2 separate regions of the Homo sapiens genome follow, and region 2 is reported to be linked to region 1. The links are microRNA targets in miRTarBase. Many come from high-throughput screens and were not tested one by one. Region 1 holds a microRNA gene; the other region holds the end of a gene's coding sequence.

Evidence for each region. The annotated mature microRNA hsa-miR-6511a-3p reads CCUCACCAUCCCUUCUGCCUGC and lies in region 1 at 2,589-2,610, shown strand. An mRNA with a match to its seed (bases 2 to 7 or 8) in the 3' UTR can be bound and repressed. Matches are read on the target gene's strand: a 7mer-m8 pairs with bases 2 to 8, a 7mer-A1 pairs with bases 2 to 7 and ends in A, and an 8mer does both.
Region 2: the mRNA of ZNF324B is a reported target of hsa-miR-6511a-3p. The part of its 3' UTR that is shown has no 7-base or 8-base seed match.

Annotation. Positions count from the first base shown.
Region 1 is chr16:16,366,331-16,373,450 of GRCh38, forward strand. MIR6511A3 (microRNA 6511a-3) reads left to right here and starts at 2,546; the gene lies at 2,546-2,612. It also overlaps the pseudogene PKD1P2. RefSeq lists enhancers at 2,531-3,443, 4,415-5,315.
Region 2 is chr19:58,455,598-58,462,710 of GRCh38, forward strand. It overlaps ZNF324B (zinc finger protein 324B), which reads left to right. Exons shown (of 4, transcript NM_207395.3): 4 at 1-2,236. The coding sequence ends at 982. Among named protein-coding and RNA genes, the nearest start is that of ZNF324B, 7.5 kb to the left of the region's middle.

The sequences.
Region 1 (7,120 bases):
CCAGGCGCAGGTGCGCATCGTGGTGCTGGAGGCCGTGAGCGGGCTGCAGGTGCCCAACTGCTGTGAGCCTGGCATCGCCATGGGCACTGAGAGGAACTTCACAGCCCGCGTGCAGCGCGGCTCTCGGGTCGCCTACGCCTGGTACTTCTCGCTGCAGAAGGTCCGGGGCGACTCTCTGTTCATCCTGTCGGGCCGCGACGTCACCTACACGCCGTGGCCGCGGGGCTGTTGGAGATCCAGGTGCGTGCCTTCAACGCCCTGGGCAGTGAGAACCGCACGCTGGTGCTGGAGGTTCAGGACGCCGTCCAGTATGTGGCCCTGCGGAGCGGCCCCTGCTTCACCAACCGCTTGGCGCAGTTTGAGGCCGCCACCAGCCCCAGCCCCCGGCGCGTGGCCTACCACTGGGACTTTGGGGATGGGTCCCCAGGGCAGGACACAGATAAGCCCAGGGCCGAGCACTCCTACCTGAGGCCTGGGGACTACCGCGTGCAGGTGAACGCCTCCAACCTGGTGAGCTTTTTCGTGGCGCAGGCCACGGTGACCGTCCAGGTGCTGGCCTGCCGGGAGCCGGAGGTGGACGTGGTCCTGCCCCTGCAGGTGCTGATGCGACGATCACAGCGCAACTGCCTGGATGCCTACGTTGACCTGCGCGACTGTGTCACCTACCAGACTGAGTACCGCTGGGAGGTGTACCGCACCGCCAGCTGCCAGCGGCCGGGGTGCCCGGCGCGTGTGGCCCTGCCCGGCGTGGACGTGAGCCGGCCTCAGCTGGTGCTGCCGCGGCTGGCGCTGCCTGTGGGGCACTACTGCTTTGTGTTTGTCGTGTCATTTGGGGACACGCCACTGGCACGGAGCATCCAGGCCAATGTGACGGTGGCCCCCGAGCGCCTGGTGCCCATCACTGAGGGTGGCTCCTACCGCGTGTGGTCAGACACACAGGACCTGGTGCTGGATGGGAGCGAGTCCTACGACCCCAACCTGGAGGACGGCGACCAGACGCCGCTCAGTTTCCAGTGGGCCTGTGTGGCTTCGACACAGGTCAGTGCGTGGCAGGGCCGTCCTCCCTGCCCCTCACCCGTCCACACCCATGAGCCCAGAGAACACCCAGCTTGCCACCAGGGCTGGCCCGTCCTCAGTGCCTGGTGGGCCCCGTCCCAGCATGGGGAGGGGGTCTCCCGCGCTGTCTCCTGGGCCGGGCTCTGCTTTAAAACTGGATGGGGTTCTCGGGCCACGTCGCCCCTTGTTCTCGGCCTGCAGAGGGAGGCTGGCGGGTGTGCGCTGAACTTTGGGCCCCGCGGGAGCAGCACGGTCACCATTCCACGGGAACGGCTGGCAGCTGGCGTGGAGTACACCTTCAGCCTCACCGTGTGGAAGGCCGGCCACAAGGAGGAGGCCACCAACCAGACGGTGGGTGCCGCCCGCCCCTCGGCCACTTGCCTTGGACAGCCCAGCCTCCCTGCTCATCTACTGTTTTCCGTGTTTTAGTGCTGGTGGAGGCCGCGCGCTCTCCCCTCTCTGTTTCTGATGCAAATTCTATGTAACACGACAGCCTGCTTCAGCTTTGCTTCCTTCCAAACCTGCCACAGTTCCACATACAGTCTTCAAGCCACATATGCTCTAGTGACAAAAGCTACACAGTCCCCCAGCAATACCAACAGTGAGGAAGAGCCCCTTCCCACCCCAGAGGCAGCCACTGTCCCCAGCCCATGTCCCTGTTGCTGGATGTGGTGGGCCGGTTCTCACCCTCATGCTCCCCACTCTGGACCGGCCAGGAGGCTTGGTGACCCTGAGCCCGTGGTGGCTGCTCCTGCTGCTGTCAGGCGGGGCCTGCTGGTGCCCCAGAGTGGGTGTCTGTTCCCCAGTCCCTGCTTTCCTCAACGGGCCTGATTGGGGGTCTGCCCAGAGGGGTCGTCTGAGGGGAGGGTGTGGGAGCAGGTTCCATCCCGGCTCAGCCTCCTGACCCAGGCCCTGGCTAAGGGCTGCAGGAGTCTGTGAGTCAGGCCTACGTGGCAACTGCGGTCCTCACACCCCCACATACGTCTGTTCCCACACGCATCCCCCCAGGGGCCCTCAGTGAGCATTGCCTGCCTCCTGCCAGGGTCCAGCTGGCTCCAGTACACCAGAACACACACCCCAGTGTCCTCTGCCCTGTGTATGCCCTTCCGCCGCCCAGGTTGGAAGGTGGCAAACCGGATGAGTATCCTGGGAGGGGGTGAGCTCACCGGCAGTGGCCAGGCCCCTGGGAAACCTGGAGTTTGGGAGCAGCATCCTCCACGGGTCCCCCAGACCTTCCAGCAGGCCAAATAGACCTGTGTTGGAGGTAACCCCACTCCCACGCCAGGTGCTGATCCGCAGTGGCCGGGTGCCCATTGTGTCCTTGGAGTGTGTGTCCTGCAAGGCACAGGCCGTGTACGAAGTGAGCCGCAGCTCCTACGTGTACCTGGAGGGCCGCTGCCTCAATTGCAGCAGCGGCTCCAAGCGAGGGGTGAGTGTTGAGCGGGGTGTGGGCGGGTTGGGGATGGGTCCCATGGCCGAGGGGACGGGGCCTGCAGGCAGAAGTGGGGCTGACAGGGCAGAGGGTTGCGCCCCCTCACCATCCCTTCTGCCTGCAGCGGTGGGCTGCACGTACGTTCAGCAACAAGACGCTGGTGCTGGATGAGACCACCACATCCACGGGCAGCGCAGGCATGTGACTGGTGCTGCGGCGGGGCGTGCTGCGGGACGGCGAGGGATACACCTTCACGCTGACGGTGCTGGGCCGCTCTGGCGAGGAGGAGGGCTGCGCCTCCATCCCCCTGTCCCCCAACCGCCCGCCGCTGGGGGGCTCTTGCTGCCTCTTCCCACTGGGCGCTGTGCACGCCCTCACCACCAAGGTGCACTTCAAATGCACGGGTGAGTGCAGGCCTGCGTAGGGGGAGCAGCGGGATCCCCCGACTCTGTGAGGTCACGGAGCCCTCCCGTGATGCTGTGGGGACCATCCCTCAGGCTGGCATGACGCGGAGGATGCTGGCGCCCCGCTGGTGTATGCCCTGCTGCTGCAGCGCTGTTGCCAGGGCCACTGCAAAGAGTTCTGTGTCTACAAGAGCAGCCTCTCCGGCTACGGAGCCGTGCTGCCCCCGGGTTTCAGGCCACACTTCGAGGTGGGCCTGGCCGTGGTGGTGCAGGACCAGCTGGGAGCCGCTGTGGTCGCCCTCAACAGGTGAGCCAGGCCGTGGGAGGGCGCCCCCGAGACTGCCACCTGCTCACCACCCCCCTCTGCTCGTAGGTCTCTGGCCATCACCCTCCCAGAGCCCAACGGCAGCGCAATGGGGCTCACAGTCTGGCTGCACCGGCTCACCGCTAGTGTGCTCCCGGGGCTGCTGCGGCAGGCCGATCCCCAGCACGTCATCGAGTACTCGCTGGCCCTGGTCACTGTGCTGAACGAGGTGAGTGCAGCCTGGGAGGGGACCTCACATCTGCTGCATGCGTGCTGGGGACCAAGACCTGTTCCCCTGCCTGGAGCTTTGCGGAGGGCTCATCCCGGGCCCCAGAGATAAATCCCAGTGACCCTGAAGCAGCACCCCGACGTTCCGCTCCCAGCAGCCACACCCACCGGGCCCTCTCCGGCGTCTGCTTTCCACAATGCAGCCCCCGCCCAGGAGGGCCCATGTGCTTACCCTGTTTTGCCCATGAAGAAACAGCTCAGTGTTGCGGGTCAGTGCCCACATCACACAGCATCTAGCACGTAACTGCACCCCGGGAGTCGTGGGCATCTGCTGGCCTCCTGCCGGCCTCCTGCCCTGCTGACAGCTTGCTGTGCCCCCTGCCTGCCCCAGTACGAGCGGGCCCTGGACGTGGCGGCAGAGCCCAAGCACGAGCGGCAGCGCCGAGCCCAGATACGCAAGAACATCACGGAGACTCTGGTGTCCCTGAGGGTCCACACTGTGGATGACATCCAGCAGATCGCTGCTGCGCTGGCCCAGTGCATGGTAGGATGGCCCCACATGCTCACCCCGCCCCGCATGCCTGCCAGGGTACTGGGTTCAGCCCCCCAGGGCAGACGGGCAGCTTGGCCGAGGAGCTGAGCCTCCAGCCTGGGCTCCTTCCTGCCGTGGCGTTCCTCGGTCTCTGACCTGCTTCAGTAGCCTCAGCCTTTCTGCTGTCCTGTGTGAACGCAGGGTGCCTCTCGGGGGACCCAGGGTGTAAAGAGGGGCCCAGATGTGGGGAGGGACTAAGAAGATGCTGCTCTGTGCCCTCCACTCTCCCCTCCCCTCCCCCTTCCCTCCCCTTTCTCCATCTCTCTCCCCTTTTCTCCATTTCCCCCCCGATCCTCCCCGTCCTTTTGTCCATTCCCCTCATCTTTCTTATCCCCCTTATCCTCCTTCCCCTCCCTTATCCTCCTTCCCCTCCCTTATCCCCCTTATCCCCCTTCCCCTCCCTTTCCCCCTGCTCCTCCTCTTCTCCCCTTTCTCTTTTCTCTACCCTTTTCCTTCCTTTTTCCTCCCTCTCCCCATCATCCCCCTCATCTTCGTCCTCATCCCCATCCCCTTCCCCCTCCCCCTCCACCACTCTCTCTCCAGCTTCCCCCTTCCTTCTGCCTGCACCTCGCTCTCTGCCCCCTCAGGTTCCCCCTTTCTCCCAGCCCCCACCCTCCAGCTCCCCCTTTTTGCCTGCCCCCACCCTCCCTCTGCCTCCCTGTCTCTGCACTGACCTCACGCCTGTCTGCAGGAGACCTCATCCACCTGGCCAGCTCAGACGTGCGGGCACCGCAGCGCTCAGAGCTGGGAGCCGAGTCACCATTGCGGATGGTGGCGTCCCAGGCCTACAACCTGACCTCTGCCCTCATGCGCATCCTCACGCGCTCCCGCGTGCTCAACGAGGAGCCCGTGACGCTGGCGGGCGAGGAGATCATGGCCCAGGGCAAGCGCTCGGACCCGCGGAGCCTGCTGTGCTATGGCGGCGCCCCAGGGCCTGGCTGCCACCTCTCCATCCCCTAGGCTTTCAGCAGGGCCCCGGCCAACCTCAGTGACGTGGTGCAGCTCGTCTTTCTGGTGGACTCCAATCCCTTTCTCTTTGGCTATATCAGCAACTACACCGTCTCCACCAAGGTGGCCTCGATGGCGTTCCAGACACAGGCCGGCGCCCAGATCCCCATCGAGCGGCTGGCCTCAGAGCGCGCCATCACCGTGAAGGTGCCCAACAACTCGGACTGGGCTGCCCGGGGCCACTGCAGCTCCGCCAACTCCGTTGTGGTCCAGCCCCAGGCCTCCGTCGGTGCTGTGGTCACCCTGGACAGCAGCAACCCTGTGGCCGTGCTGCATCTGCAGCTCAACTATACGCTGCTGGACGGTGTGTGCAGCGGGTGGGGCACACGCGGCCCCCTGGCCTTGTTCTTGGGGGGAAGGCGTTTCTCGTAGGGCTTCCATGGGTGTCTCTGGTGAAATTTGCTGTTTCATGGGCTGTTGGGGGCCTGGCCGGAGAGGAGCTGGGGGCCACGGAGAAGCAGGTGCCAGCTCTGGTGCAGAGGCTCCTATGGCCTTTCAGGCCCGTGGCAGAGGGTGGGCTCAGGAGGGCCATCGTGGGTGTCCCCCGGGTGGTTGAGCTTCCCGGCAGGCGTGTGACCTGCGCGTTCTGCCCCAGGCCGCTACCTGTCTGAGGAACCCGAGCCCTACCTGGCAGTCTACCTGCACTCGGAGCCCCGGCCCAATGAGCGCAACTGCTCGGCTAGCAGGAGGATCCGCCCAGAGTCCCTCCAGGGTGCCGACCACCGGCCCTACACCTTCTTCATTTCCCCGGGGTGAGCTCTGTGGGCCGGCCTGGCAGGGCAGGGCAGGGCATCATGGGTCAGCATTGCCCGGGTTACGGGCCCCGTGGGGACGGCAGGCAGCGAGGGGACTGGACCGGGTATGGGCTCTGGGACTCCGACATCCAACCTGGCGGAGCCTGGGCTCACGTCCACTGCCCCTTCCCTTCCCAGGACCAGAGACCCAGTGGGGAGTTACCGTCTGAACCTCTCCAGCCACTTCCGCTGGTCGGCGCTGGAGGTGTCCGTGGGCTTGTACACGTCCCTGTGCCAGTACTTCAGCGAGGAGGATGTGGTGTGGCGGACAGAGGGGCTGCTGCCCCTGGAGGAGACCTCGCCCCGCCAGGCCGTCTGCCTCACCCGCCACCTCACCGCCTTCGGCACCAGCCTCTTCATGCCCCCAAGCCATGTACGCTTTGTGTTTCCTGTGAGTGACCCTGTGCTCCTGGGAGCCTCTGCAGAGTCGAGGAGGGCCTGGGTGGGCTCGGCTCTATCCTGAGAAGGCACAGCTTGCACGTGACCTCCTGGGCCCGGCGGCTGTGTCTTCACAGGAGCCGACAGCGGATGTAAACTACATCGTCATGCTGACATGTGCTGTGTGCCTGGTGACCTACATGGTCATGGCCGCCATCCTGCACAAGCTGGACCAGTTGGATGCCAGCCGGGGCTGCGCCATCCCCTTCTGTGGGCAGCGGGGCCGCTTCAAGTACGAGATCCTCGTCAAGACAGGCTGGGGCCGGGGCTCAGGTGAGGGGCGCGGCGGGGTGGCAGGGCCTCCCCTGCTCTCACTGGCTGTGCTGGTTGCACCCTCTGGGAGTGAGTCTCGTCGCAGGCGTCAGAACAAGGCAGTTTTTGCAGTGCTGTGTGAAGGGCTCGTGTGTTCATCCTGGGAATGACCTCGTGAGCACTCACTGTCCCTGAGGACTAGGACAGCTCCTAGCTGGAAGTAGGTGCCAGTCAGTCAGGGTGGGCAGCCCACGTTCTGCACAGTAGCGTGGCCCCACAAGTGACATGAGCATCGCTACCACTGTGGGAGACCATGCATCCACCCGCGATCCTGACTGCATAGCTCGTCTCTCAGACGGAGGTGCCAGCACCCTCCCCGTGGCTGTTTCTTCAATACCTCCATTTTCCTTTATTGGAATTGCCCTTCTGGCATTCCCTTTTTGTTTTCATTTTTCTTTTTTTGGAGACGGAGTCTCACTCTGTTGCCCAGGCTGGAGTGCAATGGCGTGATCTTGGCTCACAGCAACTTCCAGCTCCTGGGTTTAAGCGATTCCCCTTAAGCGATTCTCCTGAGTAGCTGGGAGTACAGGTGCACGCCACCACACCCAGTTA
Region 2 (7,113 bases), not on the chromosome of region 1:
TGGCAGGGATCGCAGAATGGGCGCAGCTTGGCAGGAGCCTCATAGACTCCTCGGTGGCCAGGAGCCCTCGACCTGGGACGAGCTGGGCGAGGCTCTTCACGCTGGGGAGAAGTCCTTCGAATGCAGGGCGTGCAGCAAAGTGTTCGTGAAGAGCTCCGACCTCCTCAAGCACCTACGCACCCACACCGGGGAGCGGCCCTACGAGTGCACCCAGTGCGGCAAGGCCTTCAGCCAGACGTCGCACTTGACGCAGCACCAGCGCATCCACAGCGGCGAGACGCCCTACGCGTGCCCCGTGTGCGGCAAGGCCTTCCGGCATAGCTCCTCGCTGGTGCGGCACCAGCGCATCCACACGGCCGAGAAGTCCTTCCGCTGCTCCGAGTGCGGCAAGGCCTTCAGCCACGGCTCCAACCTCAGCCAGCACCGCAAGATCCACGCGGGTGGGCGTCCTTATGCTTGCGCACAGTGTGGCCGCCGCTTCTGCCGCAACTCGCACCTGATCCAGCACGAGCGTACGCACACAGGCGAGAAGCCCTTCGTATGCGCGCTCTGCGGTGCTGCCTTCAGCCAGGGCTCCTCGCTCTTTTTGCACCAGCGCGTGCACACAGGCGAGAAGCCCTTCGCCTGCGCCCAGTGCGGCCGCTCCTTTAGCCGCAGCTCCAACCTCACCCAGCACCAGCTCCTGCACACGGGCGAGCGGCCCTTCCGCTGCGTGGACTGTGGCAAGGGTTTCGCCAAGGGCGCCGTGCTGCTCAGCCACCGGCGCATTCACACGGGCGAGAAGCCCTTCGTGTGCACGCAGTGTGGCCGCGCCTTCCGTGAGCGCCCTGCCCTCTTGCACCACCAGAGGATCCACACCACAGAGAAGACCAATGCCGCAGCACCAGACTGCACCCCGGGGCCAGGTTTCCTTCAGGGACATCATCGGAAGGTGCGCCGGGGAGGGAAGCCAAGCCCAGTCCTGAAGCCAGCGAAGGTCTGAGGTCACAGGTCGCAGCCCAACCCTTTCTTGGCCTTCTGTGAATCCCTTCCACAGCTAAAGGGTCCGAGTGCTCTTCAGATCCACGATGGGGAAAAGCTCTGTGCCTGAGAGTCAGGGACGAGGGAGACCCTTTGGCTGTGGTTCCATTTGCAGGTGGGGACAGGATTTGCCAGTTTAGTCATAGCTCACACCTCCATCCTCAAAGAGGTAACACTGCAGAAACATCAGAGGGAGGACATGTCAGCTGGAACTCTGGTGGGGCTGAGGCTGTAGTTGGGGCCATAGGACGCCGACAAAGGCAGCGCTGCATGGTGGTGCTACTTCATGTGTTATGAGAGTGGATGCTGAGGTGAGGGGGATGCGGACATGGGGTAGGATGACCTAGAGAAACTTATGATGTCTGCACACAAACTGGCCGCTAGACGGACGCTGAGGACATTTTCCCCCTGAGGCCTCTATTCAAGGCTTCCTGGGGGCCATCTCAGCAAACAGGAGACTACAGGGGACTGGGGATCAGGGTGTGGCCTGTGAGTGTCAGCCTCCTCCTCGGAAAAAGAAAAGCTTTGGGTCAACTCAGCATCATGTTTGCAGATGCTGACAGACGGGATCCTAATGAGAGTCAATGTGTGCTCACTGCCAGCTCCTGGGCTGTGCTCTGGTCAGCCAGGTGTGAGGGCCTGGCCTGGGGTCACACAGCTGACTCAGGAGAGGAATGCCCATGGTTCTCAGCATTGGAAGGACAAACCTAGGATGATGGCTTTCCAGTGGCACTCGTTCAGGTTTTCGTCCAAGTCTCAGCTTGGCCAAGGCCTGTCGCTCACTCATTTACAAAAGTCGATGTGAGGAGGAGCCTTTACACCTGTGGAGACAGTGATAGCTTTGGAGCAGATAAGGTGGAGCTGCTCATTTTTGCTGGATTTGGTGGCCGATCCCCGCCCCCACCCCCACCCCCTCCATCTCACCTTTCCCTTGTTATGCCTCCTCAATTGGAGGCTGGACAGAGAGCTGAATAGGAAGGACTTGCCATTACCTAAGGCCATGTGTGACAGCCTCCTGAGGACCTCCCCAACCCAGTGTGATGGGCCTGCATGGCAGAGACAAAAGGGTAGACTGGGGGTCATTTGCTTCCTGTGGCCTTAAGCCTACTAGGCCCCATCCTTACCTGAGACCTCACCTCCAAGAAATTAATGGTCTTTTCAATGGAGAAAAAAAAAGACTAGTATTTGCAACTTCAAATAGATGTAGTTTCCTTTACAGCCGTGTGGACCTCCACAGCACAGCCTCCTGTCTCTATTCCAGGGTATGATTCAGTTGTTTGTTTGTTTTTGAGACAGAGTCTCAAGGCAACTCTTCTTGCCCAGGCTGGAGTGCAATGGCACAATCTCGGCTCACCGCAACCTCCGTCTCCCAGGTTCAAGTGATTCTCCTGCCTCAGTCTTCTGAGTAGCTGGGATTACAGGCGCCCACCACCATGCCCGGCTAATTTTGTATTTTTAGTAGAGACAGGGTTTCTCCATGTTGGTCAGGCTGGTCTCGAACTCCCAACCTCAGGTGATCTGCCCATCTTGGCCTCCCAGAGTGCTGGGATTACAGGCGTGAGCCACTGCGTTTGTTTTTCATGAAGCGTCTCAGTCTGTCGCCCAGGCTGGAGTGCAGTGGAGCAACCTCGGCTCTGCCTCTTGGGTTCAAGCCATTCTCCTGCCTCAGCCCCTCCAGTAGCTGGGATTACAGGCTTGCACCACCATACCTGGCTAATTTTTGTATTTTTAGTAGAGACGGGGTTTCACCATGTTGGCTGGGCTGGTCTCAAACTCCTGACCTCAAGTGATCGGCCCATCTTGGCCTCCCAAAGTGGTGAGATTACAGGCGTGAGCCACTGCGCCTGCCTACATACCATGATTTTAAAGTTGCAGCTGTTTCCTATTGCTTGTAACTCAGTCTTGTCTTTTCAATGGTAACCAATTTCTGTTTCAAACTGAAAGGTTCATGAGGGTGAGTTCTTCTATTAGTCTGTTTTGTGTCACTATAAAGGAACACCTAAGGCTGGGTAATTTATAAAGAAAAGAGGATTAATTGGCTCATGGTTCTGCAGGATGTACAGCCATGGCACCAGCATCTGCATGGCTTCTGGTGGGACCTCAGGAAGCTTGCAATCATGATGGAACATGAAGGAAGAGCTGGCATATCACATGGCAAGACAGGAAGCAAGGCGGGGGGGAAGTGTCACACATTTTTTTTTTTTTTTTTGAGGAGTCTCGCTCTGTTGTCCAGGCTGGAGTGCAGTGGCACGATCTCGGCTCATTGCAACCTCCGCCTCCCGGGTTCACGCCATTCTCCTGCCTCAGCCTCCCGAGTAGCTGGGACTACAGGTGCCCGCCACCACGCCCAGCTAATTTTTAATATTTTTAGTAGAGACGGGGTTTCACCGTGTTAGCCAGGATGGTCTCGATCTCCTGACCTTGTGATCCGCCCGCCTTGGCCTCACAGCAGAGTGGTGGGATTATAGGCGTGAGCCACCGCGCCCGGCCCACTTTTTTTTTTTTTTTTCTGAAATGGAGTTTTGCTCTTGTTGCCCAGGCTGGGGTGCAATGGCACGATCTCAGCTCACTGCAACCTCTGCCTCCTGGGTTCAAGTGATTCTCCTGCCTCAGCCTCCTGAGTAGCTGGGATTACAGGTGTGCACCACCATGTCAGCTAATTTTTGTATAATATTTTTAGCAGAGACAGGGTTTTGCCATGTTGGCCAGGCTAGTCTCAAATTCCTGGCCTCAAGTGATCCACCCGCCTCAGCTTCCCAAAGTGTTGGGATTACAGGTGTCAGCCACCGCACCCAGCCCATCACACACTTTTAAACAACCAAATCTTTCATGAACTCAGAGCAAGAGCTCACTTCTCACCAAGGGGGATGGTGGCAAGCTATTCATGAGGAATCTGCCCCCATACTATAGTTTGGATGTTTGTCCCCTCCAAATCTCATGTTGAAATGTAATCCTCAATGTTGGAGATGGGGCCTGGTGAGAGGTGTTTGGGTCATGGGGGTGGATCGCTCTTGAATCTCTTGGTGCTGTCCTCAAGGTAGTGAGTTCTCACAAGATTTGGTTATTTAAAAGTCTGTGGCACCTCCTTCCTTTCTCTCTTGCTCCTGCTCTCACCAGGTGAGATGCCTCCTCCCCCTTTACCTTCTGCCATGATTGTAAGCTTCTTGAGAACCTAGCAAGAAGCAGATTCTGAAGCCATGCTCGTACAGCCCTCAGAACAGTGATCCAATTAAACCTCTCTTCTTTATAAATTACACAGCCTCAGGTATTTCTTTATAGTAATGCAGGAATGGCCTAATATACCTCATGATCCAACACCTCCCACTAGGCCCCATGTCCAACACTGGAGATCACATTTCAACATGAGATTTGGAGGAGACACACATCCAAACCATATCAGTTCTCTTGTCCCTGAGTGAAGAGGCACTTGCTCCCTCTAAACCCAATTCTAGGTGACTAGAGATTTATGAAGGTGTCGGGATGTTTGTTCATGATGCATAGTGGCCTCATAGGGTCTCCCTACTTCTTCTGCAAGAAGAACACCTTCAGGGGCTTTCAGCTCAGCCAGAAGATTCACATAAAGGTTGTTCATCTGGTACCTTGAGCACTCTGCCAACACAGGTGATCACAGATTCCAAGACACATAAAAGAGTGAATCACAACTCACTGGTGACTCATTGAGGAGTGATGCTCACAAAGCAACACACTTCGTCTAAATACACTGTACTAACCTTGGTCACTTTTGAAAAGGTATTTCTACAATTATTTGAAACTGCTCATGAAAACTGAGCTTTCCCTTAAGGAGCAACCCCCCCACCCTTCGAAACCTATGGAGATCCTATTTCCAAAAACTTAGGTAAATGGACCCAGGTCACTCGAGATGACCCTAAAATGCAGTGGCCAAAACGGAGATCTTTTGAAATTCCTAAAGTAATATATTTGTGTGCACAATAGGAAACTTAATATGTTTGTTCTAAAACCAGACAAATTGGATGGGAGGCCTACTTTCTGTTTGTGCAGGCTATACTCTGATAAGATATTTGAAAGGTTTTTTAAAAAGAGCTCTATAGGCCAGGCACAGTGGCTCATGCCTGTAATTCCAGCACTTTGGGAGGCCAAGGTGGGCGGATCACCTGAGGTTGGGAGTTCGAGACCAGCCTGACCAACATGGCGAAACCCCATCTCTACTGAAAAATACAAAAATTAGCCAGGCATGGTGGTGCGTGCCTGTAGTCCCAGCTACTTGGGAGGCTGAGGCAGGAGAATCACTTGAACCTGGGAGGCGGAGGTTGCAGTGAGCTATGAAACTATAGCAAACTCCAGCCTGGGCGACAGAGTGAGACTCCGTCACAAAAGTAAGTAAATAAAATACAATGAATTCTATGGTCAGATGTCAGCTTAATTAAAAGCTGATATTCAGGCTTTTTTTTTTTTTTTAAGAAAAAATACCTTTCTGCTTTTTCTCATTTGGAGCCTGTTTCTGGGAATTTTTTTTTTTTCTGTTGACTGAAACCCCTTTTTACATATGTTTAGTCCCTTTGTTTGCTTCTTTTCTTGTTAGTATGATGTAAAGTTTTATTGGCCTTCTGAAAAACTTAAAATCTCCCCAAATTGGCTTAGAGCTCTCCCATTTTCTTCTACTTTTTCTTCCTTTAGCTATCTTTGATACCACATAAAGAAATCTAGAGGAGTCTTCTAATATCTCTGAGACCCTTTGAGGAACACAGTAAAGTGTCACATACACCTTTTATGGAGTCTTCTGTCTTCCTCATGGAATCCTAAGTGTAGCAGGCAGTTTATCTTAGGTCTAAAGCTCTGATCTCTTTTACACTGAGTTCTCTGACCTTTTGGCTTGGGGGGTACCAAGGGTTACTTTGTTCTATGAAAGAACATGATCTTTGGGTGTGCACTGGCTGGCAAGTTACTGGCAAGGGCTGCAGTTTTGGCTGATAGCAGTTGTTTTCAGTGAGTGGTTATTACTGCAGGGTGTACTAATTCCTTTGCATGTTTAAATAAGAAAAGTATGGTTTGAACACTTGGAGACTTATAGAAACACTCATCACCAAGGGGGAAGAATCCTTTGGGAGATGGGCTGATCACAGATCACAGAGTGGGCTAATTGGTGCTGGGTGTCCCACCAGCATCAGGGAATGTCCATGCAGTGAGGTGCACTGTGGAAACACAGCCCTGTCCTGTGGTATTTCCATCTTGTGGGGTCCTCAAGATTCCATTTTAAAGTGGAATCCTTGATTTTATTTATTTATTTTTATTTTTTGAGATGGAGTCTCGCTCTGTTGCCCAGGCTGGAGTGCAGTGGCGTGATCTCAGCTCACTGCAAGGTCCACCTCCCGGGTTCACGCCATTCTCCTGCCTCAGCCTCCCGAGTAGCTGGGACTACAGGCGCCCGCCACCACCCCTGGCTAATTTTTTTGTATTTTTAGTAGAGACGGGGTTTCACCATGTTAGCCAGGATGGTCTCGATCTCCTGACCTCGTGATCCGCCCGCCTCGGCCTCCCAAAGTGCTGGGATTACAGGCGTGAGCCACTGCGCCTGGCCTGGAATCCTTGATTTTTAAAGCTCTAGATGTTCTGCCTTTCAACTGTGCCAGTTTTTTACATAGATGGGGTTTCTCTATGTTGGTCAGGCTGGTCTCAAACTCCTGACCTCGTGATCCGCCTGCCTCGGCCTCCCAAAGTGCTGGGATAACAGGCGTGAGCCACCGCACCTGGCCTATGTTGAGTTTTAGGCCACAAAAAATTGACCAAAAATTTTTTGACAATTGCATCTTTAACCATGGACATTTTAAGTTTTGTCCTCAGCTGGGCGCGGTGGCTTATGCCTGTAATCTCAGCACTTTGAGAGGCCAAAGCAGGCAGATCATTTGAGGTCGGGAGTCGGAGACCAGCCTGACCAACATGGAGAAACCCCGTCTCTAATAAAAATCCAAAATTTGCTGGGTGTGGTGGCCCATGTCTGTAATCTCAGCTACTCAGGAGGCTGAGGCAGAAGAATCGCTTGAACCCAGGAGGCGGAGGTTGCAGTGAGCTGAGATCGAGCCATTGCACTCCAGCCTGGGCAATAAGAGCAAAACT